2 separate regions of the Homo sapiens genome follow, and region 2 is linked to region 1. Evidence: fine-mapped expression QTL. A gene starts in region 1. The other region holds a variant in brackets. All regions are shown on one strand. Distances are from middle to middle.

Region 1 (17,113 bases):
GCAGAGAAAGCATAAGCTATATGTAGTTAAGCCCTGCTGGAGCCTGGGGACCAAGTAATTTGTGTGTAATAAGTGCTGTGACATGCTACCAAGTTTTTATTGTCCCCTGTCAAGGGCATCTTTACTGAATCCGAAGATGCTGATTTGATTCTTCCTTGTTGTCTACCTCTGCAAGGCTGATGGTCCCGCTTAGTGTAATTTCTTCGCTGAGCACTGTGGGCCGCAGGGTATTTCTTGCTCAGGGGATGTTTTGACAAGCTAGCCTCTCTAGGGCCCCTGTACGTAGCGACCCTCATAGACACTCCCTCCCAGTGCTGGCTTCCAGGTGGGCACCAGAGGCGAGAGTAGGGGCTCACCATCAAATCGCCGCTGTGCTCCCCAAAACTAGGTGGGCAGAAAGCTAAAAAAGTACAAAAACCATTCAAATTAATAGCAGTTAGTCTGGGGATACAACACATGTGAAAACATAACTCAACAACAACAAAATCAATATGTTAACAGAAATTGAAAACTTTGCGGCTGGGGGTTGGTCCTCAAGCTTTAATGCACACTCTAACCCTGGGGTGCTGGTGAACGTCAAGTCCCAGGTCTCAGGCCTCTGAAGCCTGACAGATGGAGGTGCCAGGGTGCACATGCTCACGGCACCCTGGCGACCCTGACCTCAATGGGGTCCCGAGGACATGGAAGGAGAAATACTTTGAAAGGCGAAGCAACTGGCTGGGCAGGGAGGCCAAGGCGGGCGGAACACTTGAGGTCAGGAGTTCGAGACCAGCCTGGCCAACACGGTGACACCCCGTCTCTACTAAAAATACAAAAATTAGCCAGGCATGGTGGTGGGTGCCTGTAATCCCAGCTACTTGGGAGGTTAAGCCAGGAGAATCACTTGAACCTGGGAGACGGAGGTTGCAGTGAGCCGAGATTGTGCCACTTCACTCCAGCCTGGGCAACAGAGCAAGATGCCATCTCAAATAAATAAATAAGAAAGGAGAAGCGACATCAGAGGGGGCAAGGCTGATCAGGGAAAGCATCCTAGAGTTGAGACTGGGGGGGTTTCATGTGAGGAGGTGAAGGCTGTGGCACATTGTAAAGGAAGCAGTGATTTAAAATGCAAGGAGAGGCCGGGCGCAGTGGCTCACGCCTGTAATCCCAGCACTTGGGAGGCTGAGGCTGGCAGATCACTTGAGGTCAGGAGTTTGAGACCAGCCTGGCCAACATAGTTGAAACCCCTTCTCTACTACAGATACAAAAATTAGCCAGGCATAATGGCGCATGCCTGTAATCCCAGCTACTTGGGAGCCTGAGACACGAGAAACTCTTGAAACCAGGAGGCAAAGGTTGCAGTGAGCAGAGATTGTGGCACTGCATTCCAGCCTGGGTGACAGAGAGAGACAGTCTCAAATAAAATAAAATAATAAAATAAAATATAAAATAAATAAAATGCAAGGAGAAAAGCTGTTCCAGTGGGAAAGGCAGGGAGGCAGGAATTACACGCAGTGATCATGAACTGCATGTATCTAGGCCTTATCTCTCAAATTGTAAAGTCACCTAAAAGGTAGACATTTTCTAGGTACAGCTATGATATAGAATTTAGACTAACAAATGTCTCTCTCTCCCTCTTCCCTGCCTCCCTTTTATTCCATGCTTACAGCTAAGGAAAGGTGAGTGAGCCTCTTGAATGTGGCCCTGATTTGTCCTATGCTCTGGGACCTTCTCCTCCAGCACAAAACCCTCTTTGAGTCTTTGCACATATCCCAAGCTCTCCTGCCGGCTCAGGAGGCACATCCGCTACTTCCCGTCTGCTCCCTAGTGCTTACGGCACGCACGCACCATTACACTGGGTGTGCTTGCTCACTCTGCGCGTGCCTTTGTTTTCTCCCATTGGTGCTAGTTAAAGGAATTTTAAACGAAGCCTTGAGGAAAATGGCGTGCCCCCATGTTCTATCATGGGGAAAACCTTGATCAGTTCCTTCGTTGCAAAAAGATCAAGGATCTTGTTTCAGTTTCAGCTTCAAAGGGCGTGCAATGATCAAAATGTTGTTTGTTTTATTTTAGTTATCAGGATGCAAATTTAGTTTTTGAGGAGTTTGCTCGCCATAATCTGAAAGATGCAGGAGAAGCTGAGGAGGGGAAGAGAGACAAGAATGACGTTGATGAGTGAAGATGTCGGCTCAGGATGCCGGAAAATGACCTGTAGTTACCAGTGCAACGAGCAAAGCCCCACAGTTTAGTCCTTTGGAGTTATGCTGCGTATGAAAGGATGAGTCTTCTTCCGAGAAATAAAGCTTGTTTGTTCTCCCCTGGGTCATGAGTTGGTTGATTTGTTGGGGAGGCTGAGTTGATGACATGACACAAGCTGCCACCATTAGGGTCCCTGGAGTGGGAGGGTTGGGGAGAGGGAGGCCAGCCTCCCACGGAAGGGCTCACCACTCCCATGAGGGAGAGAAGGCGTCTGGAAATCAATGTGCTCACCAGGTGGGGCCCTCGGTGTGTCCAGGGGCTTTCCTAGGAGTCCCAGTCTGAGCTGTTTCTCTGGAAACAGTGCCTTCCCGTCTGTCCGTCTGTCCTTCCTTCCTTCCTTCCTTTATTCCTCCCTCCCTCCCTTCCTTCCTTCGTTTCGCTCTTGTTGCCCAGGCTGGAGTGCTGTGGCGTGATCTCAGCTCACTGCAAGCTCCGCCTCCCGGGTTCACGCCATTCTCCTGCCTCGGCCTCCTGAGTAGCTGGGATTACAGGCGTGTGCCACCATGCCCGCCTAATTTTTTGTATTTTTATTAGAGACAGGGTTTCACCATGTTAGCCAGGCTGGTCTCAAACTGCTGACCTCAGGTGATCCACCCACCTTAGCCTCCCAAAGTGCTGGGATTACAGGCGTGAGCCACTGCGCCTGGCCACCAGTGTATGTTTCTAATTACCTGACCAGTCCCAACTTCCAGGCCCCTAAAGAGCCTCCTAAGTTAAATAGGGCAGAGAACATCTGTGGACAAAAATACTCTTGGTTAATGATTCAACTTTTGGGTCCAGGTGTCTGTTTGAGCTTTGGGTTGTTGGTAAAGTTCTATTCAATGCAAGAAGCAAAATCAGATTTGGTTAAATTAAGGTGGGGAGAAGGAATGTAGTGGGAGGACCCCGGTGTGATCAGAGAACTGAAGGACAAACCTGAGCTGCCACACCTGGGGTAAGCAGGAATCAGAGAAGCTTCAGGGGTCAGGGACCCACTCTCCAGGGCGGCTCTTCATGCAGCTCAGCACCATACGTTCCCAGCTCTGCGTCTCTTGGTCCCAGTGGGCAGTTATTGGGAAGGAGAATCCAACTGGCTCAGCTTTGGCTGGGAGGATCAACACCCCGTGGTCAGCGATGGCAGAGCCCAGCCCTGGAGATGGAGAGTCCCAGAAAAGGGGGTTGATTGTGAGTCACATGGGCTTACTTAGAGCGTGCTTCACTGAGACTGGGCGTGAGAGGCATAGGGGAGAGCACTCTGAGTGTCAGGGAGGAAGGTGAACTGCAGGTGGAGGAGGGATAATAGAGGTGATACCAGGGCCTTTCCTTTGTGGGGTCCCTTCCTGCCCTGAGGTACCCACCGGGCCTGCTGCTGATGGCACAGATACTGAACAGGCTCATGGCGGCCAAGGAGAGGATGGAGATGCATAGGCTCTGGTCCATCTCTGGTCCATGCTTTAAGGGAGCAGGGTAAAGGGGGGTTGGAGATTCCTCCACAGTTCAACCCACTCACAGAAGGCAGAGGGTGAGTGGGAGGGGTTCTAGATGGGGAGTACACGTGGATCAGGCTTCTGGGATGGAACATGGCGACAGAGGGCTGGCCAGGGTATGGGTTCCATACACATGAAGGTTCCCAGCATCTGGGGTTGTTCAGAAGGATTCCAGCTGTTCGGGTCCTGGAGATTGGGATTTAGATGAGGAGGCTCCACTTGGGAAGCTTGGATGGGATCCCAGACAAAGCGAGGTGTGGACCCGTGTGCTGGCTCACGCATCCTGGCATTGGGAGGAGGATTTATAATACACTAGACTACAGGTGGAAGATTGGTCCTTCAGGCTGCGAGTTAGCAGGATCAGACACAGTCCCTCGTTCTTTTTCTCTCTATGCTAAGGTAATGGTGCACGACCATTTCAACCCATGCTCCCCTCAGGGCACGCAGACAAGGGATGGCCAGGGTGGCACACTCCTCTGAGGATTCCCAAAGCTGTTCCCCATTGCACTGAGCCCTTCCCCTGTCCTCTGCCACAGCACACAGGCTGCTGTGTTTAGCTCCTGCTAGAGCTCTTGGGCTAGCCCAGGGCCTGGGATTCTGCCCTGTGGTGCCTGGTGAGAGGACCAGCCCGTTGGTTCCTGCATTGCTTGACCCCAGGACATCCTAAGTCAGGGTGGACGTTAATAAGCCCGACCTTTGGAACTACGTGGGTGAGAGAGCTGGAGGGAAGGGCTGGAAGACCAATCCCTGGAGAGCAGAGGTCAGCACAGCCCTTACCCTCCTAGTTATTTTGGTGCCAAAATGTCTCGATACGCCCTCCAGGTGCTGGCTTGTTTATGGCCTGCAGCTGGCCACGCTGGGGAGGGAGTTGGGGGAGGAAGCGAGCAGCCAGCTGCCCTGAGCAGAAAGTGGAAGCTTGGCTCAGCTCAGCCTGCACATGTGTGGGGCTGTCTACTGGCATGTAGTGTCCCTTGGTATCAGGAGGCAGGAAGTCTACGTGCAGGTTGAATGTGTGGCCCAGAGTTTTTGGGACAGATGCAGTGCAAGAAACGGGGTACAGAGCAGTTGAAGGTGCTGCATGGAGAAAGTTCTGCAACCAGCAATGAAGGGCTGGAGAAGGGGGATGGATCCCTGCTATTGATGGAGTGCCTACCTTGTGCCAAGTACTTCACATCTGACATGTAACCATTTCAGTAGTACTTATAAATCAGTAGCATCATTCATATTTCTTAGATGAGGAAATTGCGGTTCAGAAAGGTTATGTACCTTACACATAGGTCACACAGCTAGTGAGAGTCAAGGCTTGAATGCTGGTGTCCCTGAGTCTATAACTAGACCTTTGCCCACTGTATGGTGCTGAATGGAAGTAGGAGAGTTTGGTGGAGTGGGGGGAGGGAGATTAGCATTTAGGATTCAACAACAACTGCCCTTGGCCCTTGCTATTTTTTTTTTCCATTGAAATTTTCAGGCTGGGCGAGGTGGCTCATGCCTGTAATCCCAGGACTTTGGGAGGCCGAGGCGGGCGGATCATGAGGTCAGGAGTTCAAGACCAGCCTGGCCAACATGGAGAAACCCCGTTTCTACTAAAAATACAAAAAATTAGCTGGGCATAGTGACAGGTGCCTGTAATCGCAGCTACTCAGGAGGCTGAGGCAGGAGAATCGCTGGAACCCAAGAGGTGGAGGTTGTAGTGAGCCCAGACTGTGCCATTGCATTCCAGCCTGGGCAACAGAGCGAGACTCCATCTCAAAAAGAAAAAAAAAAAGAAATTTTCATTGAGAGACTTGCACATTCACATGCAGTTGTAAGGGGTAATACGGAGAGACCCCAGGAACGCTTTACCCAACTTCCTCCAGTGGCAACATCATGTAAAGCTACAGTACAATATCCCAGCGGGGTATCGACGTGGGTCCAGTCTGCTCATCTGACTGAGATCTCCACAACTGGATTTGTACTAGTGTGTGTATTCAGTTCTCTGCAATTTTGTCACATGTGTGGTTAATTCCTTTTTAGGGTGTCTGTTTTCCTACTCCTTTAACATTTAAAAAACCTTTCTTCCTTCCAGTTTCATTTCACAGGACTGAGTCGCATTTACTGATCTTTGAGGAGTAGGGCAGGTGCGGGGTGGGAGTTGGGGACATTTGGAAATGTGTATGGTGGTTTTTGGTTTTCACATGCTTGGGGACCAGAAGCTCTATGTCACATGCAGTGGAGAAATGTGCTGCTCCAAATGACAATCATGACCCTAGTTCAGGGTAAAAATTGGATGATTCCCATGTTTTCAAGTTTCCCTTTTATATTCTCCAATGTGAAGTGGTTCTTTCTGACAGGAGTTGCGCCTCTTCACTGACGTGTCACAAAGAAGAATTAGGTTGGACGTGAAGTGTGTTATTACTGCCATCTTGATATGCCCTCAAGGTGGGGTAGACTCAGGGAGCAGGCTGTCGTTAGAGATGATTCATAGTGTGACTCATTCAATAAAGAGGCACCGGAGGGAATGTGCTCTTCCAGGCCACCGCTTTGGGGGAGTTGATGTCTCAGCCCTTCCTGAGATCTCCAGGGGAACAGCGCTGTGCGCTCACCAGGAGAACAAAAAAGCTGCTTCATCATCAAAGAACATTTATGCCAGTTTTCTTTGCTTTAAGAATATAATTCTTACCAAGCCTAATCCTCTTTTTTTAAAATACACTTTTTATTTTGAGTAGTTTTAGATCTACAGAAAAGTTGCAAAGATGTTATACTGAGGTCCCCCACACCCAAAACCCCCTATTATTAACCCTTACATGAGTAGGGTACATTTGCCACACTGAGTGACTCAAATGTTGTTTCCAGTAAAATATACTTATTTCTTTCCAACTTTTATTTTAGGTCCAGGGGGTACATGTGCAGGTTTTTTACATGGGTAAATTGCATGTCATGGCGGTTTGGTGTACAGATAGATACTTTTGTCACCCAAGTAATCAGCACAATAATCCCCGATAGGTAGTTCTTCAATCCTCACCCTCCTCCTACCCGGGAATCAATATTGATGCATTATTATTAAACTAAAGCCCCATACTTAATTCTGATGTCCTCAGCTTTTACCTAATGTCCTTTTTCTGTTCTGGGATCCCATCTAGGAACCCACGTGACGTTTAGTCATCATGTCTCCTTGGCTCCTCTTGTCTGTGACAATCTCAGTACTTTCTGGTAATTGCAGATTTCCTCCTCTCCAGCCACGGTTTCTGCTTCTTAACCGTCACGTTCATGCCCTTGCCTCCTTGACTCTAAAATGATGAGTTCTGGGGCCTGGATGTCCCCTGAGCTCCTAACAGGTGTAGGCAACAGCATTTATTATTATTATTATTATTATTATTATTTTTGAGACGGAGTCTCGCTCTGTTGCCCAGGCTGGAGTGCAGTGACACAATCTCGGCTCACTGCAACCTCTGTCTCCGGGGTTCAAGTGATTCTCCTGCCTCAGCCTCCCGAGTAGCTGGAACTACAAGCGCCCGCCACCACGCCAGGCTAATTTTTTGTATTTTTAGTAGAGACGTGGTTTCACCGTGTTAGCCAGGATGGTCTCGATCTCCTGACCTCGTGATCCGCCTGCCTCAGCCTCCCAAAGTGCTGGGATTACAGGCGTGAGCCACCGCGCCCGGCCGGCAACAGCATTTTAATGGCCTCCCTATTTCTAGTCTTCTCTCCTATGGATCATTCTCTGCCCAGACACATGAGTTCCTCTGCTTTCCCAAACCCCCTTGCCAGCTCCAGTGCCCACGGGACTGAAGTCCTTGCCTCAGAGCAGGGCCGGGAGGCTACTCTGCATCCTGGCGCCGCTGCTCACCTCCCTGCCTCCCGCACCCGCCTTGCTACCGGCTTCACCAAAATCCCTCGTCACCCGCTCTGCTCACCTGGTAGGGGTAGTCTCCCCGTTTTTGCGTTTTCCTGGGAAACTCCCTTCATATCTGACCTCTCCATTCCAATCCCAAACCCTGCTCAGGTCACCCGGCTCCCCCGCGGAATGAAGGAATGAACTGTTTCTTCCCCTGTGCGTCCCCGCCCCTCCTCCGCCTTGCACACTCCTCCAGGGTTTTGCCTCTGTGTATCACTCCACATGTAGTTAATTGATAGAAAAGTCCCAACCCTGTGGGGAGGCTGGAGCCCTTTGTGCCTGCATGAGTTCCCTAGGGCTGCCAGAGCACTGCACCATAGGCCGGGCGGCTTCCACCACAGGAATTGACGCTCTCGGTTCTGGTGGCTGGAAGTGCGAGATCACGGTGTCGGCAGGGGGAGTTCCATCGGAGGCCTTTCTCCTTGGCTTGTAGATGCCATCTTCTCCCTGTGTCTTCACATGGGCTGCCCTCTGTGTGTGTCTGTGTCCTCATCTCCTCTTTTTATGAGGACGCCAGTCATACCGGATTAGGGATCACCCCTGTGACCTCATTTTAACTTCATTACCTTTTTAAAAACCTTAACTCCAAATGCAGTCACATGCTGAGGTACTGGGGGTTAGGACTTCAACATATGAATTACGGGAGGACACAGTTCAGCATGCGACTGTGCTGCAGAACTTTCTGGGGGGACGGGGGAAGTGTTTTATATTTGTGCTATCCAGCGTGGCAGCTGCTAAGCCACATGCGGCTACTGAGTCCCTGAAATGTGGCTCCTGTGGCTGAGGAACGGAATGCTGAATTCTAACTAATTGAAATTTAAGTAGCCACATGTGGCTAGTGGCTATAGTACCCTGGGGCACCATGGGGCCTTCGGCCTGTCCCGGACTGTTCCTGCCTTAGGCCTTGTCCTCCTCTGTCCTGGCCGTGAGCCCATGCCCCTGGCCGTGTCCCCATGCCAGATGCCACTCTGCAGCCCCAGGTCACTGCCCAGGGCGGCGCGGCCAGCGAATGCCTATTGGCAGGCGAGGTCTCTAGCGGCAGCCCTTTGACAGGGAGAGGGCACACCTGGGCAGTCCCTTACTGATTTGCCCCTCAGAGCAGGGCAGACAGATGGACAGCATTTCCTCTGGGTGGCACCAAGCCCTGCTCCACCTGGATGGCACCAAAAACTTAGCTGATCTCATCTCCAGCTTCGCTTCCTCCTCTTCTGCCCAGAGCAGCGCTGGACCCCACCCGCCCACCATCCAGCAGCCCCCCTGGGAAACATGGGACTCGTTCTGGTCACCTCTGTCTCCCTCCAGTCGCTGGTCACTCCCCACCTGGATCTCAGTCCACGTCTCTATCTCTCAGCCCCTCGGTAATCCAGGGCGTCCACCTGCCCTGATAACTTCAAAGCCCGGATCACAGGCCCCAGCGTGGTGACCCAGCCCCGCCCAGGGTTAAATCCCTCAAGGGCTTCCTGCTGCCTTCCATCCCCTTATCTGGTTTCCAAAGCCCGCTTCGACCTGCCCGCCCCGAGGCTCATATCTTAATGCCATTTTCCTTGCTCTAAGCACCAGCTTCCCTTTCTTCCCCCGTCTTCGCCCAACACTCGTTCTTTCTTGCCTCCAGGCCTTTGCACAAATCTGGTCTCTGCCTAGAACATGGTTCCCTCTCTAGTCACAACTCCTGCTCACATTTTCCATCTCTCCTTAAGAACCGTTTTCTCCAGGAAGCCTTCCCAGATGGAGCGGTGCATCCCAGCTCTGGCGTCCCGAGGCCCGTCCCAGTACCGGGGTCTCTTTCCAGCACGCGCGCGCGCATTCGAGCTCGCCCCAAACTCGGCCACACAAGGCTGGGCAGGACAGACACAGCCCCAGCCTGCCTGAGGTTACCTACATTCTGATGCGGAAGAGTAGAGATGTTTTAAGAAGTGAATATAGAAACAAGAACACAAACGGCGTTCCAGAAATAACACACAGAAGCCACGGCCCGGAGAGGTGGGCGGGGGGCCCGGGACGCTTCAGGTGGGGGCGGGGAGGGGCCGCGCGGCGCCGTCTGCAGCTGCGCGCATGGCCGGCAGGGGGCGCGGCGGGGAGAGGCGGGAGGCCGCCCCCACCGCCCCCGGCCCGGCCCGCCCTCGGCCCCGCCCCTCCCGCCGGCCCCGCCCCGCCCCCGCCCGCGGTGCGCGCGCTGGCCCGGCAGCATGGCGGCGGCGGCGGGCGCCCCTCCGCCGGGTCCCCCGCAACCGCCTCCGCCGCCGCCGCCCGAGGAGTCGTCCGACAGCGAGCCCGAGGCGGAGCCCGGCTCCCCACAGAAGCTCATCCGCAAGGTGTCCACGTCGGGTCAGATCCGACAGAAGGTGAGCCCGCGGCGCGGCGGCCCGGGCGCGCGCCCCTCACGCCGCGGCAGCCCCGGCCGAGGCCCGTGGCCCTGCCCGAGCGGCCGCCCAGGCCCGGCTCGGCCCGGCCCGGGGTCCCGCGGGCGTCACCGCCCCTGTCGAGCGTGCCCCGCCGCTGTAACGGGCCGGCGCCCCGGGCGGAGCGCGCGGCCCCCGACGGACGGCGGGCGGCTGTGGGGCCGGGCGGGGGGCGCGCAGGTGGGCGCCCCGGGCGCCGCGCGCTGGGCGGGGGGCGCGCGCCGAGTTGGGCCGCGAGGACCCGGAGGAAACTGAGGCCTAGATGCAGGGGACTGCGCTCGTGCCACCGAGCGGGTCCCACGCGGGGGCTCCCGGCTGCGCCCCGCGGGCGTCCGCGGTCCCCAAACCCCGGTTCTGCACGTTTCTCAGGAGCGGTCGGGTGGTGTCCCGCGAGTGCCCTGCAGACTTCCCTGTGGTGCCCTCAGAAGTCCGCTCGGACCCGGGTGCGAGGGATCACCCCTTCACCCCTTCATCCCAAAAGGGAAGGAAGGGATGCGCGTTCAGTGACCGTCTCTCTCAGCAAAGCCGGGACCGCGCACCCGCTTGGCACCCAACTCTCCACGGAGAACTCCTGACGCTAAATGTTAGATAAAGACGCACGTCCTTTTTGCAGGAGGAAAGTTGCACCGTTTGTTTTCCCATTGTGCTTCCTATTGAAAACAGCTTACGGTTTTTGCTCCAGGTGAGCCCGCCCGGTTAGAACACTGCTTCCTCAGGCAGGTGGCTGGACAGGTGGCTGCGAGCAGGCTGGGTCCCTGGGGCAGCTCTGGCAGATCCGGTTGGCACGGACTTTCTCCTCCTGCTGCAGTGCGCTTTTCCTCCGGGGCGGATTAGGTTCAGCCGTTCCCTTCACCGTGGGAGCCTTCTCTTCTGTCAGCCTTTGATACCTGCGATGGGGGAACCTGAGGTCCTAACATGTTACAAACAGGTTTGTTGTGAAGTGCTCCAGTTATTCAGCAAATAGGTACCGAACACCTGCTTTGTTCCGGGTATAACAGTAGCAGTAGTGATGATAATGATAGCAATAGCAAATAACAATTCTTTAATAAGCCTTCTATGTGCCAGGCACTTTCTTGGGTTAGCTTTACAGCACTTGACATGGTTAGTTTATTAGTACTGGTGAGAACCCAATAAGTTGGATGCTATCATCTCCGTCTTTTGGAATTGGAATAGAAATAGAATCAAGGTTAAATGACTTGCCCAGGGTGTCACAGGTCGTAAATGTGGATGTGTGTTGGAACCATGGTCAGGACCGTAAGATGGAAGGCAGTTTCTACACCTAGGGATTCTCAGTCTAGTTGGGAGATGGACGCCTGTGCACCTGACATGACAACATTGTAAGTGCCGCGGAAACTCGGGGCAGAGACCTGCCCTGGGGAGGCAGGAGTGGTTTCCTTTAAGGTGAGATCTTGAGGGATAAAGAATTCACCAGGCTAAGTGGGTAAGAAATGGCCTTCTACATATTTGAACCTTGCGTCTAGAGCTTTAGGCACAACTGCGAAATGATCAGAAGTTGGGCCAGAGGTGGATCACGTTGATTAGACTTATTAGTTGGAAGGGTTGGTTAGGGCTGAATTTCGAAGGGGTGGTCCTTTGAGGGGTTTGCTTTTTGGCCTTGGGCAAGAGGTGGCCACAGAGGATTGTTCAAAGTATGGGGGTGATGGATCAGATGTGCTTTTGGGAAGATCTCCACATAGCCCTAAATGATACTGATAGGAGTTGCTTTCTCCTGTTGCCCAGGCAAGGTACTGACCAGTGTGGGGTAGATCATGTGATTTACAAGGTTGATTAAGATCAAGATTGTGTTGAGAGAGATTTGATTCCTGGGAGATTCCAGTGTTTAGAATTTTGTTGGTTAGGAGGTGTTTTTGCTTTCCTTCTTTTTTCTCCTAAAACAATAGCTGCTATACCAGCTGTTCTGGTTGAGGAGGAGTGATGGGTAGACTGTTAAAAATACACCCCGAGGACTTAGAGTTTCTGAATACAGTCACATCTGCTGTACAGATAGCTTAAGGCTGATTTTTCTTCTGAGTTGTTAAGAGATTGTCAGAATGTGGGAATGCGAGGTTGACTGTATGTAATAGCTCCATTTTTTTTTTTTCCAGCAGATAAGCCATTCACAAAATTCCTCTGGTATCTATGGTACATAATAGAAACATCAAAAATGGTATGGGGTAGCAGTCTGAGTCTAAAAAGAAAAACAGAACTCACCTTAAGTATTTGGAACAGAAGGAATGTAATCTAGGGGAGTGGTCACACAGGTGATGTGAGAACTGAGAATGCAGGCTGCAATGAGGCAAGCCGGAGATGAGGCAACAAGCAGGAAACTGCTGCCACCCCTAAGTTGGAGGGTGAAGGAAGGAGATGGCATTTCAGACTCCAGGGACAGCTGTCACCCACCAAAAACTGGGGTCACAAGGGGTCCATCTGGCAGTGGCTGGAGCCTTGCAAGGGCACAGCTGCTGCTGCGGATGTACTGTTCCCCTCCTGCCTGGGAACCCTGGCCTTGCTGGGGTCACCTCCTCCACAACTTGGACTGGAGCAGAAGGACAAAGAATGGATCTGAGGACAAGCTGGCCCAGGACCAGAACTGTATGTATGTCAGGCTTTTAAAATATTAGTCTAGTGCAAGTCAGAGCTGTCTTAATGAAGAGAAAAACAAAAGAGAATGTCTTAGGGCAGTGCTCCTCAAATTTTAATGTGCAGACACATCTCCTAGGGATCCTGTTAAAATGATGATTATGGTTGAGTAGGTCTAGGGTGGGTGGGGCCTTAGAATGTGCATTTCTTTTTCTTTCTTTCTTTCTTTTTTTTTTTTTTTTTTGAGACAAGGTCTCACTTTGTCACCCAGGCTGGAGTGCAGTGGTGCGATCTCAGCTACGGCAACCTTTGCCTCCTGGGCTTAAGTGATTTTCCTGCCTCAGCCTCCCAAGTAGCTGGGACTACAGGCAAATGCCACCATGCTGGCTAATTTTTGTATTTTGTTGTAGAGATGGAGTTTCCCCATGTTCCCCAGGCTGGTCTCAAACTCCTGAGCTCAAGTAATACACCCACCTCAGCCTCCCAAAGTGCTGGGATTATAAGCTTGAGCCAATGCACCTGGCAGAATATGCATTTCTAACAAGCTCCCAGAAGATGCTGATGCTGCTGGTCCATGGACCAGACTTTGAAAAACAAGACCTTATGGCACACATGTAAAGAGAAGCCTCTCCAAACTTCAAATAATTCTTCAGGTTATAGATCTTTAGCATATTGAAAATTTGATGTGTGCAGATTTGTGATGGCCATTTATCAGTTTAGCATTTCATGCATGTCTGATTTTTTAATATGTTCGAGCTCTTTAGAGTTGAAGCTGTCCACAGCAAAGACATTACTTCATTTGTATTTCCTGACTACAGTACACAGTAATGACTCTGTAGAACTGCATAGCTAGAATGGAAAGAAAGAAAATGGAGCTAACACTCCGACCAGCACATTCACCAGCACATTATAAGGTATTTTGAAATTTCAGTGAAGAACCGTGTAATTCTGCAAAGCTATCAGTTAAAAGAGTTTAATTTATTTAAAAGTTTCTAGAAAGTTAACATTTTTTGGATATGAGCATGAAAGTGCTTGGATTCCTGATTTTAAATTTAAACAAAGCATTTTTTCCATTGTGAAATGAAGACTAGTAAAAATTAGGTAAAGGGTTTAAGTTGTAAAAAACTTAAAAAAATGCACCGCAGTTTTATGAGATATAATTCACATGGGATACAGTTCAGTGGTTGTTAGTATATTCGCTGTTTTGCAACCATCACCACAGTCAATTTTAGAACATTTTCATCACCCCGTTTCCTCTCAACTCCCTCAACCATAGGCAACAAGAATCTACTTTCTGTCTCTGTGTTTGCTGATTCTGGTCATTTTACATAAATGGAATCATACAATATGTGGTCTGGCTTCTTTAACTTAGCATAATATTTTTAAGGTTCATCCATGTCATGGCATGTATCGGTACTTCATTTCTTTCTGTTGCTGGGTAATATTCCATTCTACAGGCACACTGTATTTTATTTATCCATTTATCAGTTGATGGACATTTGGGTTATTTCTACTTTTTGGCTATTCTGGATAATGCTGCTGTGAACATTCATGCACATGTTTTTGTGTGGACATAGGTTTTCATTTATCTTGGCTATACACCTAGGAGTGGAAGTGCTGGGCCATATGGTAATACTACCGGACTATTTTCCAGCTAAAAAGCTGCCGTAACATTTTACATTCCCACCAGCTGTGTATGAGGAGGGTTCCAATTTTTCCACATCCTTGTCAGTAACTGTTATTATCTCTCTTTTGATACTAGCCATCCTAGTAGGGATGAAGTAATGTAAAAGGTTTTTAATGCCATTTTATTGTCGGATTTCAAAGTCTAAACTTTGGTGTCAGATGAAGTCACTTCAGACCCTGCGCTTCTAGTTATGAAGCATGCGATTGTGGACAGGGTGTCTAAACCTCCCTTAAGACGTGGTTTCCTCATCTGTAAACATGGAAAATATTAGTTCTTGGGTTGGTTGTAGTGAAAGTAAATGTTAACTCTGTGTTCCTGAGTCTCAGTTTCCATGTCTGTAAAATAGAAATAACAGTTGTTATATCCATAAAATAGGAATGGGGATGTTAACTCATAGAATTAAATGGGATAATTTGTGTAGAACACCTAACATAGTGGCTGATGTATAGTAAATGATCACTAAATGGTTGCTTTTGGTTATTTTTTGTCTTTCTGATTTTTTTTTTTTTTTATCCCAGATAGGAATCATTTCCCTGATTCCATTTTTCTCCAGCTCAGGCTGGTCTGAGTCTCCATCTCTCGGCTCCAGAAGAGCAAATACAAACAAATCTGGCTGAAAATTAACAAAGACCATTTTTTAAAGAAATCGTTAATTTATTGAGTACTAGTGGGAATACCATGGGCTAGGTATTACATTTTGTATTTCACTGGTTCAGTTTAACAGCAAATATTTGAGATCTTAACATTGTTAACTGTTGTGCGAGGCACCAGGGGTATCTTATTGAGTAACAACAAAAATTTTTAGAGATGATAGTCTAGAAGACATTAATAAAACAATCACACAGTTAATATGAAGTTGTGATGGGGACGGGTGCTGATGAGGAGAGGGCCAGAATACTTTGAGAGGACATCATAGGTGAATTTGACCTGATATCAGGGAGGTCTAGGAGGGCTTCTTGAGGCAGTGACTGGCTGGGTCTGGAAGGTGAGTAGGGAGCAGTGCCTTCTGCTTCTGGCAGTGGTGAGCTGAGTGACTGCAGCGCCACTCTTCCAAGCACAGTCTGCTAATAAGATGATGCTGAATTTCTGGACTAGGATCTGGGGTGGCTGAAGATCTGTGGAAGTGAGTGTGGTATTTGGGGCTGCTTTTGACCTTGGAATCTGTAGTGGCGTCTGTAGTGGATTTGGCATCTCTACCAAATTTGGTCCACCTAGAACTTCAGGATGCCCACATAATAAGATATTAGTTAAATATCTTTAAAAAAATTTTTTTTCTTTTTTTCTGAGACAGGGTCTTGCTCGGTCGTCCAGGCTGGAGTGCAGTGGCATACTGCAGTCTCTGGCTGGGCTCAGGCAATCCTCCTGCCTCAGCCACCTGAGTAGCTGGGACTCCAGATGCATTCCATGATGCCTGGCTAATTTAAAAACACATTTTTATGGAGACGAGGGTCTCACTATGTTGCCCATGCTTGGGGTCTCAAACTCCTGGGCTCAAGCGATCCTCCCCCTTTGGCTTCCCAAAGTGCTAGAATTACAGACATGAGCTACTGTGCCTGGCCAAAATTTTTTATTTTGAGATAGGGTCTTGCTATATTCCCCAGGCTGGTCTCAAACTCCTGGGCTCAAGTGATCCTCCTGCTTCAGGCTTCTGAGTAGCTGGGAGCGTAGGCTCAAGCCACTGTGCCTGGCTAATTAAAGATTTTGAGAGTAAATCATCGTGAACTTAGGAGAAACTCTAAATCCAGTGTTGGTTTCTTTATAAGAGGAAGGGGAGGGAGATTTGGACAGAAAGACATGTTGGGAAAAAGGTTATGGGAAAATAGAGCCGGAGATTAGAGTTCGTTGATGCAAACCAAGGAATGCCTGGGGCCACCAGAAGCTGGAAGAGATAACAGATGGAATCTCCCCTAGAGCCTTTAGAGGGAGTGCGGCCTTCTGATCCCTTGATCTCCGACTTCCAGCCCCCAGAGCAGTGAGACAGTCAAGTTTTTTTTTTTTTTTTTTTTTTCCAAGTTTTGTTTTAAGCCTTGAAGTTTTATGGCAGCCCTAGGGCAGCCCTGGGGAAAGAACACTGGGCCCTGAACAAAACATGGGAGCCAAGAGGCTGAGCCCTGTGAGACTGTCTGAGTGCCTTAGCAGGGCTGAGGTGCCAGGTTCTGCCAAAGGGCAACAGTCCTGGGTGACACCCTCCCCTCACAATTTGGATTGGGATCCAAAGAAGCCACTTCCAAGGAATGCGCAGGAGCCAGAAGTATTGGAAGGACTGCAGCCCTGCTTCAAATCACCTCAGTCCTCTGAAATTAAAGTAATCCCAGTGTACTAGTGTCTCTAGATTCCCAACAGAAGCAAACTTTAATCCTCTCTAGAGGGAGATATCTCCCTCTAATCCTCCCAGTTATCAATGGAGGCCTCTAATGACTTTCACGAGTCTGTTTGTACGTTCATGATTGTGCATACAGTAAAAAAATAGACATCAAGGGAGGCGAGGCACTTGAGCTAAAACCAGTCGAAACTACAGGCTGTAGACAGACCCACAGGGCTTCCAGACTCCAGACCCAGACTTTATAACAACTGTGCTCGTTGTGTTGGAGGAGACACGAGATCAGATGGAGAGTTTTGGCAGAGAACTAGAAACTATGGAAAAGAACCAGATGAAAATTCTAGTCCACACTGGCCAGATGGCTCACGCCTATAATCTCAGCACTTTTGGACTGAGGCAGGTGGATCATTGGAGGTCACGAGTTTGAGACCAGCCTGGCCAACATGGCAAGATCCCGCCTCTACTAAAGATACTAGACATTTTTTTTTTCTTTTAAGACGGAGTCTCACTCTTGTCACCCAGGCTGTAGTGCAGTGGCATGATCTCAGC
Region 2 (14,663 bases), 91 kb after region 1:
CTTCCTTTTGCATTTATTCCTGTCTTTAGACATATGCAGATGTGTATTGTTATGACAGATGTCACCCTGCATCATGCGGCACTGTAGCCGGGTTGTGAGGGGTCACCTGGGACAATTGAGCTGGCCGCCTCTGTGGTGTGGAAGCAGGAAAGCTGTAGAGGCCATTTGGAGCGGCGTTGGCTCTGGGCAGTGTTGACAGTGAGCACAGCCATGTGGAAGGGGTGCAGCCCAGTGGCCTCCTGCCAGGTCCTGGGTCTCATCGTTGCTCTGGGTGGTGAGATGTGCTTCCAGGGAGAGACTCAGGGAGCCTCCATGTACTTGCTTCTGGGTTGGTCATTGTGAAGTGGCTGCTGCAGTCACTTGCCTAGCACATCTGGCTGCCAGGAGGAAGCCAAGACACAGGGGACACATAGAGGCACATGGCCCCAGGAGCCCTCACCCTCGTCCTGAAAGTTTGAGGTAGCTGTGGTCGAAGGGCCAGAAGGTTGGGTACAGGACTGTAGCTCACACGGTGTGAAGCATGACTGGCTCCTGCCGGGTATTTCCGTGTTATGCCTTCTCAAGTGCAAAGCCAGGGCCCAGGGCCCCCGATGATAGCAGGCCGGCCCAGGGCCCCTGATGGTAGCAGGCCAGCCCAGCTCTGAAATCACCTGCCTCCCCCGAGGCCAGCTCATCAGCTACAGGGCAGGAGGATTTCTGGTGTGTGTGAAGGATGCCAGTGACCCTTGGTGACGCGGGGACTCTTGTTTCAGGTTCACACATCGTGTAAAGAATCCTTGCTGACCAAGTGCCCACTTGGCCTGTGCAAAGTGTCAGTCATCCCACCCACGGCTCTCAACAGCATCGACTCCGATGGTGGGTACCACACATGCTTATCCTTCTCATGCACGCCCACACGCTTCCTTCTCCACGCACTTTCTCTTCTCCAGCTCTGGAGTTGGTTATCTTGGTGAGATGTCAGCAAGAGGTCAGGCACAGCTGTTGGGGGTGCTGGAGGAGTTGCACAGAGCGGCACACGGCGCCCTGATGCTGCGGCATTGCCCTTAGATGGGCCAGAGACCCAAGCCTGGCACTTGACGTGGAGGTGATGCTGTTGAGTGGCACCCAGGCTTAGACAGGCCTGAGACCCGAGCCTGGCACTTGACGTGGAGGTGATGCTGTTGAGTGCAACCCAGGTCTGGGGCCTTCTCCGTCATGAGCCATTGAAGCTGTGCCCCATCTCTGCCTAGCACATGCTGGCACACTGGCTTGCAGCTGCTCTCATGTCTGGCTGGGACATGGTGGCACCTGTTGACAAGTACTGGTGGAAAGGGGGATGTGGGGTACATGGCTCAGAGGAGATCAAGAAGAGAAGACAGCAGAAAGGTGGCATTTGGACAGCTTGTGAATGTGGAGGTCAGATGGATGGGGCTCCCGGCCTCACACATGGAGACCGGCTGTGGGGAACTGTTCACTGACCTCCTCCTGACTTACAGGTGTGCATGTGTCAGGTGTGTGTCCTTTGGGGGGGTCTGCTGCTGCTGATTCCATCAGTGGTGCCCTCAGCGTCTTCCGTGGCCTATATATTTTCTTCTGTTCGTTCTTGCGTCCAGGGTTCTGGAAGGCCAGCTGTCCTCCTTCTTGCACAAGCCCACTGTTGGTCTTCGTCAATTCAAAAAGTGGGGACAACCAGGGTGTGAAGTTCCTCAGAAGATTCAAACAGCTACTAAACCCCGCCCAGGTCTTCGACCTCATGAACGGAGGCCCACACCTCGGGTAGGAAGCTTGTAAAATATATCTTTCTTGGAGTTTTAAAAATTGTGTAGATAGTGTGTGCTTGTTAAAAAAAAAAAGTTCAAAGACACAAAGCTTTAAATAGGAAAGAAAAGTTGAACTGCTTCCTTCCCAAATTGCACTTGCAGAGGTGCCCACTCTTAATAGAGGTGCATGGCCTTCCAACTTTGAACACAGTGCGCGTGTGCACACACGTACATACATCCATGTACACACACCCATGCACGTGCATCTTTTGAGCCAATCAGGATTCTTCTTTACCTGCCGTTGCACAAATGCCTTCTGTATGTGTCTGCATACAACGTTGTGGGTGTATTTTCTTTCATTTTATAATTTTTTATTTATCTGTCTATCTATCATCTATCTATCTATCTATCTATCTATCTATCTATCTATCTATCTATCTATCTATCTATCTGTGGGTGTATTTTCCTGGCGTGCCTCGTTCTTTGTAACAGCTGCCTAACATTGAGGAAGAAGCTGTCCTGCAGCGAGGCCAGGAGGAGTGTTTGCTGAGAGGCACAGGAGGCCGCTCGGTGTGCAGGTGCTGCAAGGCAGGAACACGTAAGGGCGGCGTTGGGCCAGAGCGATTTCCACTGTGCATCAGCAGCACAGAGATTAGACTGTTCCTCTGCTTGCTGGAGAGCCATGTGTGTTCTTTGTAGTTTTTTACTTTTCATAAGTTTGTAGAAAACATTTGCCTTTGTGAATTTTGCCATTTGAATGAATTTCTTCCTCTGGAAGCATCAGTTCCAGGTCGGAGCTCTAAGAGGACTTGCTGGCACTGCCGGAGATGTCCAGGATACCCGTAGTGGGAAGTGCCTGCAGAGCCTGTGGTCTGGCCTGTATTTCTCTGGGAGGAGTCAGTGGGGTCTGTGTATTAGGAGCCAGGGGCTACTCTGATGTGAACCTCGGCCAGCTCCCTGCGTGTCCTTGGCGTACATGCCAGGGTAAGAGGAACATGCTGCTCGTCGTTGGTCCTGTGGGTGTCTTCTGTGTTGCTCATCCCCACTCACAGCCAGGCGCAGTCGGAGAGCAGTCACAGATGGCAGCATTCCAGCCTGCTTCCGCAAAGGCAGTACTCCCACATTTTCTGTAGAAAGACTTCTTATCTGAATGGTGGAGGATTGCATTCACTAGTAGGCTGATCAAGATATTTTAATTTTAATTTTACTGTTTTTTGAGACAAGAGTCTTGCTAGGTTACCCAGGCTGAGTACACTGGTGCAATCCTGGCTCACAGCAGCCTCAACCTCCTGGGCTCAAACCACCCTCCTGCCTTAGCCTCCTGAGTAGCTGGGACTACAGGTGTGTACCACTATGCCCAGCTAATTTTTTTTTTTTATGTTTTGTTGAGCCTCACAAAACTTTTAAAATGTTTTGTAGAGTGGTCTCACTGTGTTGTCCAGGTTGGTTTCAAACTCCTGGAGCCAAATGATCCTCTTGCCTCAGCCTCTCAAGAGTGTTGGATTACACTGCCTGGCAAAGAAATAATTTTAGTTAAAAAGTGGGGAAAGTGGAGATATAATACGTCTGTTATCACAATGCACCAAGCAGGCTGAGGTTGTTATTAAACATGGTACCAGGGGTGTTGGAGGAATGCTGTGAAATGGCTGTGGGCAGGGCAGGTTACACAGCTGAACTCGAGAATAACGAAATATTCATTTTGGTGTGCAAGCAAAACCCCATGTTTCGTAGTGGGAGTTAAGTATGAGATGGGATGATTTAGGAAGCCCCCACAGCGGCGTAAGGGGAGTTGAGTCGTCATTTACCATTTCTGGAAGCAGCTCATCTCACACAGCTCACAGCAGAATCTGGAGCTACTGCTTCATGTTCCAGTTCCTGGCCTTGACCTGTCACCTCTTCTCCCGAGAGCAGGGGGCCTTACAGGTGTCAGTGTTCTGTGTGGAGCCTGGGCTTGGTGCCGCATCACCTATGCCTGTCTGTCTTCTGAGCACTCATTCTGGGTCAGACACTGAGCTCGAGGCAGGGTGCGCAGGTGAGCCAGGCGGGGAGTGCAGATGCAGGGAATGGGTAGGAGCACACGCAGGGTCCCCCGGCACTTCAGTGGGGGTGACACAGCTTCTCTGGGAACCCGGTGGGGGCAGGGTCGCAAGTCAAACTGGGCGTCCTTCCACGTCTCCCCGAGCTGGCATCCGAGGAGCTCTAGTGTTCTGAAGGCTGCAGGGAGGCGGGAGGCTTCTGGGCTGAGGGCACCGCTTGTGCAGAGGCGAGGCAAGAGGGAATGCAGTGGGGCCAGGCCAGGCAGCAGCAGAAAGGTGGCACCTGCCGTCAGGGAGGGCTGCGGGTGCTGGCCAAGAGGTTCGACTCCTTCCTGCAAATGAGGGGCAGCCTCATAAAGCAAGGCCCGTGGCCAGGCTCGTGTTTTAGAAAGGTCTTCCTGGAACTCATGGGGAGCTTTCAGGAAGGGTGTCAAGGTGACTGAGGCTCCTGTGGGACTCTGCGAGAGCACGGTGGTGACCTGAGCGGGTGGCTGGGTTGGGTGTGGAGGAGAGGCTGCCAGGAGGGGCTGGGTCGGCTGCAGGCTGAGAGGAGGTGGGTCTGGCCTCTGGACTGGGTTGGTGGTCGAGCTACCATTCTCCGAGTAGGGATGTGTCCTGTTGGATGTGCCCTGGGATACCAGAGTGGTGTGTTCTGGAGGACAGGTGCAAGTGTTGGCTTTCAGGAGTGGCCTGGGGGCTGTTGATCCAGAGTCACCTGTGTGGTCCTTGAAACTGGATGTGGTCACACAGGAAGAGGATGAGGAGTGAGCAGAAGCGGCACTGGTCTCCTGAGTGGGGACGCTGCTGGGCAGGGGCAGGGGGAGCCCAGGAAGGAAGGAAACCGAGGAGTTAGGAGGGTAGGAGGCGTGGGTCACATCACCGGAGGACTGAGTGGGCCCAGGCATATGTGCTGCAGTGGGGACACGCAGCCCGCAGCAGGTCAGGCAGCCTGGGGCTCCAGGGTGACCAGAACAAGGGCCAGGGCGGAAGCCAGACTGTGGCCCAGGGCCGGGGAGTGCCAAGACTGAGGGTGCAGGGTGATGCAGGCAGCCCAGAGGGCATGCTGGGAAGGCTGGCAGGGGCCACATGTGGATGGGGCAGGGACAGTGACGCAGGGTGGGCTCACATGGTTAGGGGCCACGGCAGGCTGTGCCCGTGAGCCTGGCAGGGGATGCAGTTTTGGCCCACCACTTTGCCTGTGATGTCTGCAGAGCGTGCAGTGGCTCACCAAGCTGAGTGGTCTTGTCGCTGGGTGGGGCGTGGCTGGTGGGAGCAGTTGGCTGGACCCCAGTGCTGCTGTCGTCCCTTTGACAAAGTGGACCCTGAGTGGAGGCGGCTGGTGTCACGTGGCAGGGCCTGTGCGTGCTCTGCCTCTGGTGCAGGTCAGCCATGAGGAGCACAGGTGGCCCCTCAGCCCCGTACTGACAAGCCTGTCATTTGTCCTGTGGAATGGATGTCATTTCACGGCCTTTCTCTTTTCTCTGCAGCTTACGGTTATTCCAGAAGTTTGACACATTCCGGATTCTGGTTTGTGGCGGGGATGGAAGTGTTGGCTGGGTCCTCTCCGAAATCGACAGCCTCAACCTTCATAAACAGGTACCAGGACAGGAGGGAGCCCAGCCAGGAGCAGAGAGGGTGCGGAGGTTAGAGGGAAATCATGCAGTCTCAGCTCCTGTTCATCTCGGAGCACCTGTTCTCAGGCCAGAAACCATTGGTGGTTTTGGGGAGTGTGCAGTTTGGTGGCCAGGGCAGAGAGGGGAGAGCCTGGGCCACCCCCTGGCATTGTGGAGGCCCGGGGGCTCTGGCCATGATGTATGAGGGGGACCTGAAGGGAGCTACGAAAAGAATTGCCCACAAAGGACCCACATGGGGAGCAGGGCTGGGTGGGGCTGTTGCTTTACTGGGTAATTTTTGTCTTGAGGCCTCTTGCTTGTGAGAAGGGGACGGCAGTATACTTGAGTTTCTCAAGTCAGAGTCATGGTTCATTGGACTTAGTTTTTTGTATTAAAATAAAAATAGATTTTCCTGATTGTGTATAAAAATGTTCATATAGTCATTTAATTTCCACACCAAGCCACGGCCTCCCCAGGTGATCAGCCAGTGCCAACATTTTGCTGTCTCTGACCTCTCTTGATCACAGTACATACAATGCACAGTGCACTTGTAATTTAAACGGGCTATTCTGTTACTGCTTTTGTTGTTGTTGTTTTTGTTTTTGTTTTTTTGAGGTGGAGTCTTGCTCTGTTGCTGGGCTGGAGTGCAGTGGTGCGATCTCGGCTCACTACAACCTCTGCCTCCCCGGTTCAAGTGATTCTCCTGCCTCAGCCTCCTAAATAGCTGGGATTACAGGCGCACGCTACCACGCCCAGCTAATTTTTGTATTTTTAGTAGAGACAGGGTTTCTCCATGTTGGCCAGGATGGTCTCGATCTCTTGACCTCATGATCCGCCCACCTTGGCCTCCCAAAGTGCTGGGATTACAGGCATGAGCCACCGCGCCCGGCCTGTTACTGCTTTTAAAAAACCACTAATTAAGATGTTGCAGACACCTTGTGCCTGTGTCTGTAAGTAGGCATCTGTGTGTCGTTTTCCACTGGACACACCCGGGAGCCCAGGGCCAGCTCACCTCCATGTGTGAGCACGGAGATCACTTCCCAGTGGTCTCCTCTCTGAGCGCACCCAAGCTTAAGTATTGAAATGTGCTGACAAACTGCCTTTCCTCAGGGCTGTGCCAGCTTCCATGCCTGATGCCTTTAAAGCTGTCTTTCCCCGTGCACCATCCAAGCTGTTCATCTCTTTAGTTTTTGTCCAGCTAAGTAGACCAAAAAATGTCTGACCTTTACTTCTTTAATTCCTGGTGAAGTTGAACGCCTCCTCAGTTGGTTATGAAGTTTTAAATAAATCACCTGTTCATATTTTTTTTTGCCTCATTTTCTCTTTGAGTATTCACCTTTTTTTCCTTTAAAAATGGGTGTGTGAGGATTATTGTTACATTAACTTCTTATCTGTCACTGCAGATATTTTTTTCCCGGTTTGTCGTTTGTCAGTTCAACATCCTTTTTGGGGGGTGGTCTTTTCTTTCATGATTTTTGTCAACGTCTGTCATATTTGCAGCTGCCTACACCCCAAGATTAAGATTTGCATCTGTATTTTCTTATGTTTATTATGGCCCCATTTTTAAAAAATTCAGTCTTCTGTGTGACGTGGATGTATTTTTCAGTGATTCTGTGGTGCCTACCCAGCTCTGCTCACTTGGTAGTATTTCCAGGTGGGTGGATTTGACAGCTCGGGCCGTGAGGCCAGTGGCTCAGGAGGAGAAGTGGTGCCGCCTGCTGGTGGATTAGCATAGACTACTCTAATTTTTGATTTTGTGTATTACTTGCAAGTTCACTGTCACTAGTTAGGAAGACAGTGGAACCTTGTGGCTGATTTTCATACGTTCAGCCAAGGTCAGCACACATTTCTCTCCCCTGCGTCTCTTTGACACCTGATGTGGTGGCCATGCCTTCGCTGGGCCCCTGCCGCCTCGGGGTTTCTTGTCTTCCTGGCTGCTACTGCTCCATGGTGGCCTCTCCCTCCTTACCCTTCCCTTAACGCTGTGTCCTCAGAGCCTTGCTGGGGCCTCTCCTCCTTCGCTTTTGAACGCTCAGCGACTTGCAGGGCTTCTGCTGTCGTCTCTCTCCTGGGGGCGCCTCAATTGATAGCTGAGCCTTGGGCCTCTCTGGATGTCTCCTAGTGCCTCGAGTTTCCAACACTACACCACGTTCAGCCCCCACCCTGCGTTCCTTTCCTTCGAGTCTGAAAACATCATCCATCTAGATGTCTGAGCCAGGAAATCGGACAGTTGTTCTTGGTTCGTCCGTCTCTTCCTCCTGCCTGTTTCTCACTAATTGTGTCCTCAGTCCTGCCACCCACAGTACCCTGGCCTCTGTCCATCTGCAGCTCACCCAGGCGACCTTTCCCGGGGCATTTCTGCCTGTGCACCCCCCAAGCACGATGCTTCTGGGAAAAGTCCAGACCTTTAAGAGTCCCAGCTTTGCCTCCTGCTTGCTTCTCTGCCTGTCTGCCTCCTGTTTCCTCGCTGTCCTCCTCTTCACTGAGCTCTGCCTTGCCCCCTCCCAGTGGTGTCTCCCTGCCTGGAGCACCATCCATGCCTGCTGTGCGCTGCTCTCCTTTTCCTTTAAGGCTCCAGGAAGCCCTCGCGGAGTCCTCAGACCCTCTGGGCACCCTTCAGCACTGGGTTCTCTCCATCTAGTGTGTCGGCTCCGGTGTCCTGGCCTGCTCGCTCCTGCCTCCCCTACTGCCAAATGTCCCCTTGGTGAGGCAGGACCTTCCCTGGTGTTTGCTGTCCCCACAGGCGGCAGGGCCTCAAGCATGGTCACCTCCACCTGGTGGGCAGAGGGCTGTACGGTGCTGTAGGCTGGACCACGGCAGGTTTCCTGCCTCAAGGACAGTAACGCCTCCCCACACACTCCACCGCAGCCTTCATGGCCCTGGTCACTCTGTTGTCAGAGTCAAAGGCTGGTGAGCTCTGGGCAGTGGGCATTTTAAGAGGCCTCCTAAGCAATGGAATGGTGTAGTGGGATCTCATTGGAGCTCTGAAATGGGAATCCAGGTGGAGGGTGAGGCCTGAGTAATGCATGAGGTCTCTTCCTGGAACAGCAGGCAGGCGGGCAGAGGCTGAGCTCTGGCAAGGCTCCAGGGTAGCCTCCAGACTGAGGATGGTCCTGGCACCTTTTTTGGATAGGATTTAGAGGAGAGAAGTGATACTAGTGATGTTTTTGGAAGAAGAATTTGGCATTAGTGAGTGAGATGCTGTAGTGGATGGAGGGACGGGTGGCGAGGCATCAGAGTGATTCCTTGGGGCTGTGGTCACGGTGGTGAAAATGGGAAGCAGAGGGATTTGGGAGACAGATCAGAGAGGGTGTGAGGGGCTGACCATCAAGATGTGATGACAGCTGAGAGATGGACCTGTGGCTCATCCATTTCTCCCAGAAGCAGCATCTTATCTCAAGGGCAGTCATGTTTCTGTCTCATTGCCAAGGAAAATGCCATCTGTCCCCTCCAGTGGGCTCTGCCTGTAATGTGTAAGCTGCGTGGTTTTAGGTCACGTCCCCACATTGCTAACGTAACCCTCACGGTGGGGGACAAGGAGGGCTGCGGGCTGGGAAGTGGCCCCTGCCCCCAGGTGTTTGCCTGCGCATCGTCCCCCATGTTTCCTTAGTGTCAGCTGGGAGTGCTGCCGCTCGGCACAGGGAACGACTTGGCCCGAGTACTGGGCTGGGGCTCAGCCTGCGATGACGACACCCAGCTCCCCCAGATCTTGGAGAAGTTGGAGAGAGCCAGCACCAAGATGCTGGACAGGTGAGTGGGGATGTGCTCCGGTGCCGTATGAGGAGACTTTGAGAGACAGGTCCCTTTGACCAGGTGTTCTTAACCTGGGGTCTGTGGAAAACATGGGCCCTCTGAAATTATTTGTAAAGATTTGACCTGAGTATATATTCGGATAGTCTTTGATATTTGGTCAGATTATGACAAGGATAAAAACAAAACAGGTTAAGAACCAGCCATGCCCTAGGATGATCCAGTCTTCCCAGAAGGCCAAGCCTGAGTGTGTCAGGGCCGTGGAGAAGGCAGCTGTGCCATCTTTGGCTGCTTCAGCCCGAGATCTAATACCCATCGGAAGAATGCTCCTTGTCGTTTACTTGAACAGTTTCATTTTCTCATATTCTGTTCCCAGAAGAAGTTTTGGGAAATTATCCTCT[A/G]GTGCCTAAAGCCACTGTGACACCTTCCCTGAGTAAGGTACTGTTGTCCCGAGTGACACACTTGGCACTCACTGACCACATGCCTGTGGCACATGGGGTGCTGATGAGATGCCTCCTAGCCTTCCTAGTTGCTCCCAGAAGCCTGGAGTTCTGAGCACAGTTGTGGTTTTGCAATGCCCCCACCATTTCAGGCCTCCTCTGTGTGCCTTGGGGCCTGTGAAATGCTCATCTCACTGGGCCAGCTGGCTGAGCCATTTGCAGCTCTCTTGAGGAGGGTAAATCCATTTCTCCCAGAAGCAGCATCTTATCTCAAGGTAGCCATTTATGGGAGACCTTCCTCTCTTTATGGAGCTGTACTGCCGTTAGTTGTGGAGTGCAGACATTTGTTCTCAGCCAAGTTATGGGACAGAGTCAAGACCAAGGGCCTAAAAATGAAGTCAGAAACGGTGTAAAGATCAAGGCTGCCAGCCGTGAAAGCGGACGGCGCAGGGTTCACCCTTGTGGGCCTGCACGTCTTGCCGCCTGTGCAGCTGACCTTGTGTGTGCAGGTGGAGCGTCATGGCATACGAGGCCAAGCTCCCCCGGCAGGCCTCCTCCTCTACCGTCACCGAAGACTTCAGCGAGGATTCCGAGGTATTGCTGGCCTGTTCTTCACACCCTGCTCGCATGCTGATGTGATCAGAACTGTCCTGTCAGCGGTTTGCATCACCTCCCTTGCAGAGACGCCTCCCCTTTGGTGTTGGGGTGTCACAGTCAGGCCTGCGGAGGCGCAGGGTGAACCCATGGCTGAGAGGATTCTCACTCCCCTTGGCAGGGGCCTTTTGGGCTTTGTGACCCTCTAGGGGCTTCCTGGGGTTGTCATAGGCCCTGCCGGGTGGTGGGGTGGTCCTCCTAATGGCCTTTCCACCCTGTCCGTGCATCTCCTCAGCTGCGCAGTGAGCCCCAAACGGTGCGCGCCCGTTCCCTCCCCCGCCGCGGTGCCCACGTGCCTGGAATGCTCTAGCCGGCTCTGCCGCGGCTCTCCCCTAGCCCCCCGGCTCCTGCCCCGTCCCACCTCTCTGTGGCGTCTGCAGCTGCCCTTCGCTCAGGCTCCTCTAGTCCAGCTGGTGGTTCTTTTCATTTGGTGATTGTTACTGTTGTGTTTAACGCTCCTACAGTTTCCCTCAGAGAACAGACTTTGTCTTTAGTTTCTATTTTGTGCTGGTGCAGTGCTGGGTGGGGTAGTACAAAGAGGTGAGCTTTTGTCAGGGGCTAGGGCAACGGTCAGCAAACAAGGCCTGCAGGCCAGATGTGCCTGGGCCCACGGCCTTGCAAGCGAAGACTGGTTTGTACATTTTTTATTTTTCCTTTTTTTAAAAAAAAATTTTTTTTTTGAGAGGAAGAGTGTGTGGGGGAAGCCCAGAATATTCGCTGTCTGGCCAGTAGTGAAGTTTGCGACCCTGGGGCTGGGTCCTAAGGACAGCAGGGATCCCACAGGGATAGGGCTGCCCTTCTGACAGCCAGAACAGATGGTGGGGGCAGGAGTGTGTGTCCAGATGGGGCTCACAGCCAGGTGGAAACAGCCTCTGCTGCAAACGGACCCAAACCTGGAGCCGACCCGCCAGCATGCCGCTGTCAGGATGAGTAGGGGTCAGGACGGAAGCTCCTAGCACAGGCCGTGCTGGGATCGCAGACTGAAGGAGATTCATTTGCAGTTTGCCTGCAGCTTGACGAAGCTTTTAAAATCTCTCACCTAGCACTAGGTGAGTCCCAGATTAGCGTTAGAAGTGAGTTGAGGCTTGGCTGGGTCAGACAGTGTCTGTTAGGAGAGACTCATCTTTCCCAGCTTGTGCTGGCAAGGAAGTGGCTGACAGAGTCACTGGGACTGTCATGGAGCTTGCTGTCACAGAGACCAACAGTCCTGGCCATTTGGGGTGATTGCAGGTACAGCAGATTCTCTTCTATGAAGACTCGGTTGCAGCCCACCTTTCTAAAATCCTCACCTCGGACCAGCACTCGGTGGTCATCTCCTCGGCCAAGTGAGTGCCTGGTGGCCCTGGGGAGGGCATGGTGCCCTGGCCCCCAGCCTGGAGCTGCCTCTCTAGAAGGGTCTTTCTGTTTTTCTCCCCACAGAGTGCTCTGTGAGACGGTGAAGGACTTCGTGGCACGGGTGGGGAAGGCCTATGAGAAGACGACCGAGAGCTCGGAGGAGTCAGAGGTCATGGCCAAGAAGGTCTGTTCCCGTGCCCTGGGTGGGAGGGGCATTGAGGCAGCGAGAAGCTTGCTCTGTCACCAGCAGAGGGCCGTGACTGCAGGTTGTCCAGGTTCTTGGTGATTTGAACAAAGAATTAGACAAAACGCACAGTAAAGGAAGACAAGAATGAAGCAACAAAGAACGAAGGCAGGGATTTATTGAAAATGAAAGTACACTCCACACTGTGGGAGCTGCCCGAGCAGCGGCTCAAGGGTCCAGACACAGAATCTTCTTGGGTCCAAATACCCCCTAGAAGTATCCCATTGGCCACTTCATGCTCACCTCATGTAAATGAAGTGGTAGCTTGCATTCAGTCTGATTGGTGGCAGAAAGCAGCCAACCAGAGGCTGAAGTGGTTACAAAGGTCACACTCCTGTGCAAACATCTGATTGGTTGCAAAAAGCAACCAATCAGAGGCTAAGGTGAAGTTACAAAGTTGCATTTCTATGCAGACTAAGACTCAGCTCGCAATCAGTATGGTTGGTTGTGGACAGCCAATTTCCCCAATTTCCCACCTGCCAGGGCGGGAAAGGTGGGGATTTGCAAAGGGAGTAGCCTCTGGTCTTTTTGTTACTTAGGCGTGGAGAGTTAGGATTTTCCTTTTGATCGAGTTCTAGGAAGTCTGGGTGAAATGGCCTGAGGTTCCCTGCCTGCAGACCCTGTTCTCCTGCCTCAGCTCTGCATGCCATTTCCTTTCCTTGTTCAGTGCTCTGTCCTGAAAGAGAAGCTGGATTCCCTTCTCAAGACCTTGGACGATGAGTCCCAGGCCTCGTCCTCTCTGCCCAACCCGCCCCCCACCATTGCCGAGGAGGCTGAAGATGGAGATGGGTCGGGCAGCATCTGCGGTTCCACCGGAGACCGCTTGGTGGCATCAGCTTGCCCGGCCCGGCCGCAGATATTCCGGCCTCGAGAACAGCTCATGCTGAGAGCCAACAGCCTGAAGAAAGCAATTCGTCAGATCATAGAACACACAGAAAAAGGTAACTGGCCTTGTGATGAGGAGGGGCTTTCCTCAGGCCAGCACTGGGCATGCCCAGCGTCCCCTGAACACGGAGATGACAGAAGGGTGCATGTTGAGAAAACCTCCACTGCGGCCCTCTCCACCCATGTCCAGGCACCAGACCCCCAACGAGTTCGCTTGCCCTCCTTCCACCCCTCCTCTCACACCCTCAGACCCCTTCATGCTGCCTCCCCTCGACCTCTTTCCTGGCCCTCATTGACTTCACTATAAGCGTCTCACTCCCGTGAGAGCCTTGAGGTCACGGCCTCACACCCGCACACCTGCGTGTCCATGCAGCCGCTCCTCCCGCTTGCAGCCCTCCAGCCTGCGCCAGGCTCCTCTGCATCCCTTGCCTTCCCCTGCAAGGGTTCCAGACCTCCCAGCCTGTTAGCAGGGACGCCCTGCCCCAGTGCCAGGACCAGGGGGAAGATGGGTGGGGGTGGGGTTTCGGAGTCCAAGCCTTTAGCCAGAGGTTGTTTGAGGAAGATCAGGCCGTGGGGTGAGGATGAGGGGCCCTCCACCCAGCCTGACAGCGCCCTTGGCTTTGCACCCGCGTGCTCAGCCGCACACACTCTCCTTGCACAGCTGTCGATGAGCAGAATGCCCAGACCCAGGAGCAGGAGGGCTTCGTCCTGGGCCTCTCTGAGTCAGAGGAGAAGATGGACCACAGAGTGTGCCCACCACTGTCCCACAGCGAGAGCTTCGGGGTCCCCAAGGGGAGGAGCCAGCGCAAAGGTACTTGTGCCTCCACCTCCCTCTGCGCACCGTCGTGTGCTTGGTTTTGGTGAGACGTAGCGGGCTTGCCAGGGGAGGTTTTAGGGCACTTTCTCATAGTTGCTTTGGCCACTTGGTTACATAAAAATTGAGCGCCCAAGGCCTGTTTCTGTGCATCTCCTGTGCGCGCCCTTGAGGTGGGTGTGTGCGGTCTGTCTTGGTGGACAGCAGTAGAACCCGCGAGACCCCCTCCATCAGGGCGAGGACTGCCTCCCTGAGGAGCACTTGCGTCCTGCCCTCACTGCTTCCTTGGAACCACACTGGGCCCCAGAACTGCTCAGAAGGGGCTGTGTCTGGCAGAGGGAAGGCGGGTGGGTGAGCGTGGGCCTTCTTTGTCCTTGCCCCTCCTGGAACAGCCCACAGCGCAGGCCCTGGTGGAGGGCACCCCCAGCCTGTGCAGGCTGCTGGGAGGCCCATGCTCAGAACTGACCCATGGCCACTGCATGGCCACCACTGAGAGCTCTGCTGTGTGTGTGCTCCGCCTCCCACAGCCCGGACTGACTGGGCTCACCCCTCCCTCCAGCGCTGCCACCTGTGGCCTGTGTTAACCTCTCCATGAGCCCAGCCCCCCAAACATGTGCACCCACTCGGTCCTCCGCCCCCTTCTTTGTCCCACACACTTCACGCAACTGCCTGTGGTTTGCAGCCCTCCCTCCTCAGCCCTCCCACCTGCTCGTGTCGCTAAGGACCCCCCAGGATTTCACAGTCTCTATTCCACACAGCTGTAAGGTTTTCTGCTGTGTTGTTACAGTGTCGAAATCTCCGTGTGAAAAGCTGATCAGCAAAGGGAGTCTGTCCCTAGGCAGTTCTGCTTCCCTTCCGCCCCAGCCGGGAAGCCGGGACGGCCTGCCTGCGCTCAACACCAAGATCCTGTACCCAAGTGAGTGGCGGCCAGCAGGAGGGACTGGTGGGGGCCCTAGCACAACACTGGTCCCGTCAAACTGAAAGAGATGGGCTCGCTGCCCTCGGAGAGTTTACAGGCCCCTGAGAAAGATAGGTGGAATTGAAAAATTTACACGACTGTATGAAAAGTGCTTTTTTTTTTTTTTTAAAAACAAAAAACAAAAAACAAAAGCCAGATAGTACCCAAATAACCACCCAAGGAGCCCAGGAGGCG

Evidence for each region.
Region 2: its variant is fine-mapped to the expression of DGKD in whole blood (TOPMed, PIP above 0.99).

What each region holds. Positions count from the first base shown.
Region 1 is chr2:233,344,755-233,361,867 of GRCh38, forward strand. It overlaps DGKD (diacylglycerol kinase delta), which reads left to right and starts at 9,740. Exons shown (of 30, transcript NM_152879.3): 1 at 9,740-9,920. The coding sequence starts at 9,765. It overlaps SAG (S-antigen visual arrestin), which reads left to right. Exons shown (of 16, transcript NM_000541.5): 15 at 1,649-1,658; 16 at 2,053-2,301. The coding sequence ends at 2,158. RefSeq lists enhancers at 4,747-4,846, 9,190-9,249, 9,390-9,439 and a silencer at 9,690-9,929.
Region 2 is chr2:233,436,625-233,451,287 of GRCh38, forward strand. DGKD (diacylglycerol kinase delta) reads left to right here. Exons shown (of 30, transcript NM_152879.3): 8 at 753-855; 9 at 1,593-1,755; 10 at 5,263-5,371; 11 at 8,999-9,138; 12 at 10,088-10,172; 13 at 11,463-11,557; 14 at 11,652-11,751; 15 at 12,479-12,752; 16 at 13,358-13,507; 17 at 14,298-14,426. Among named protein-coding and RNA genes, the nearest start is that of DGKD, 89 kb to the left of the region's middle. RefSeq lists enhancers at 6,955-7,064, 7,085-7,134, 14,071-14,634. The variant A/G (reference allele first, on the strand shown) is at 9,540.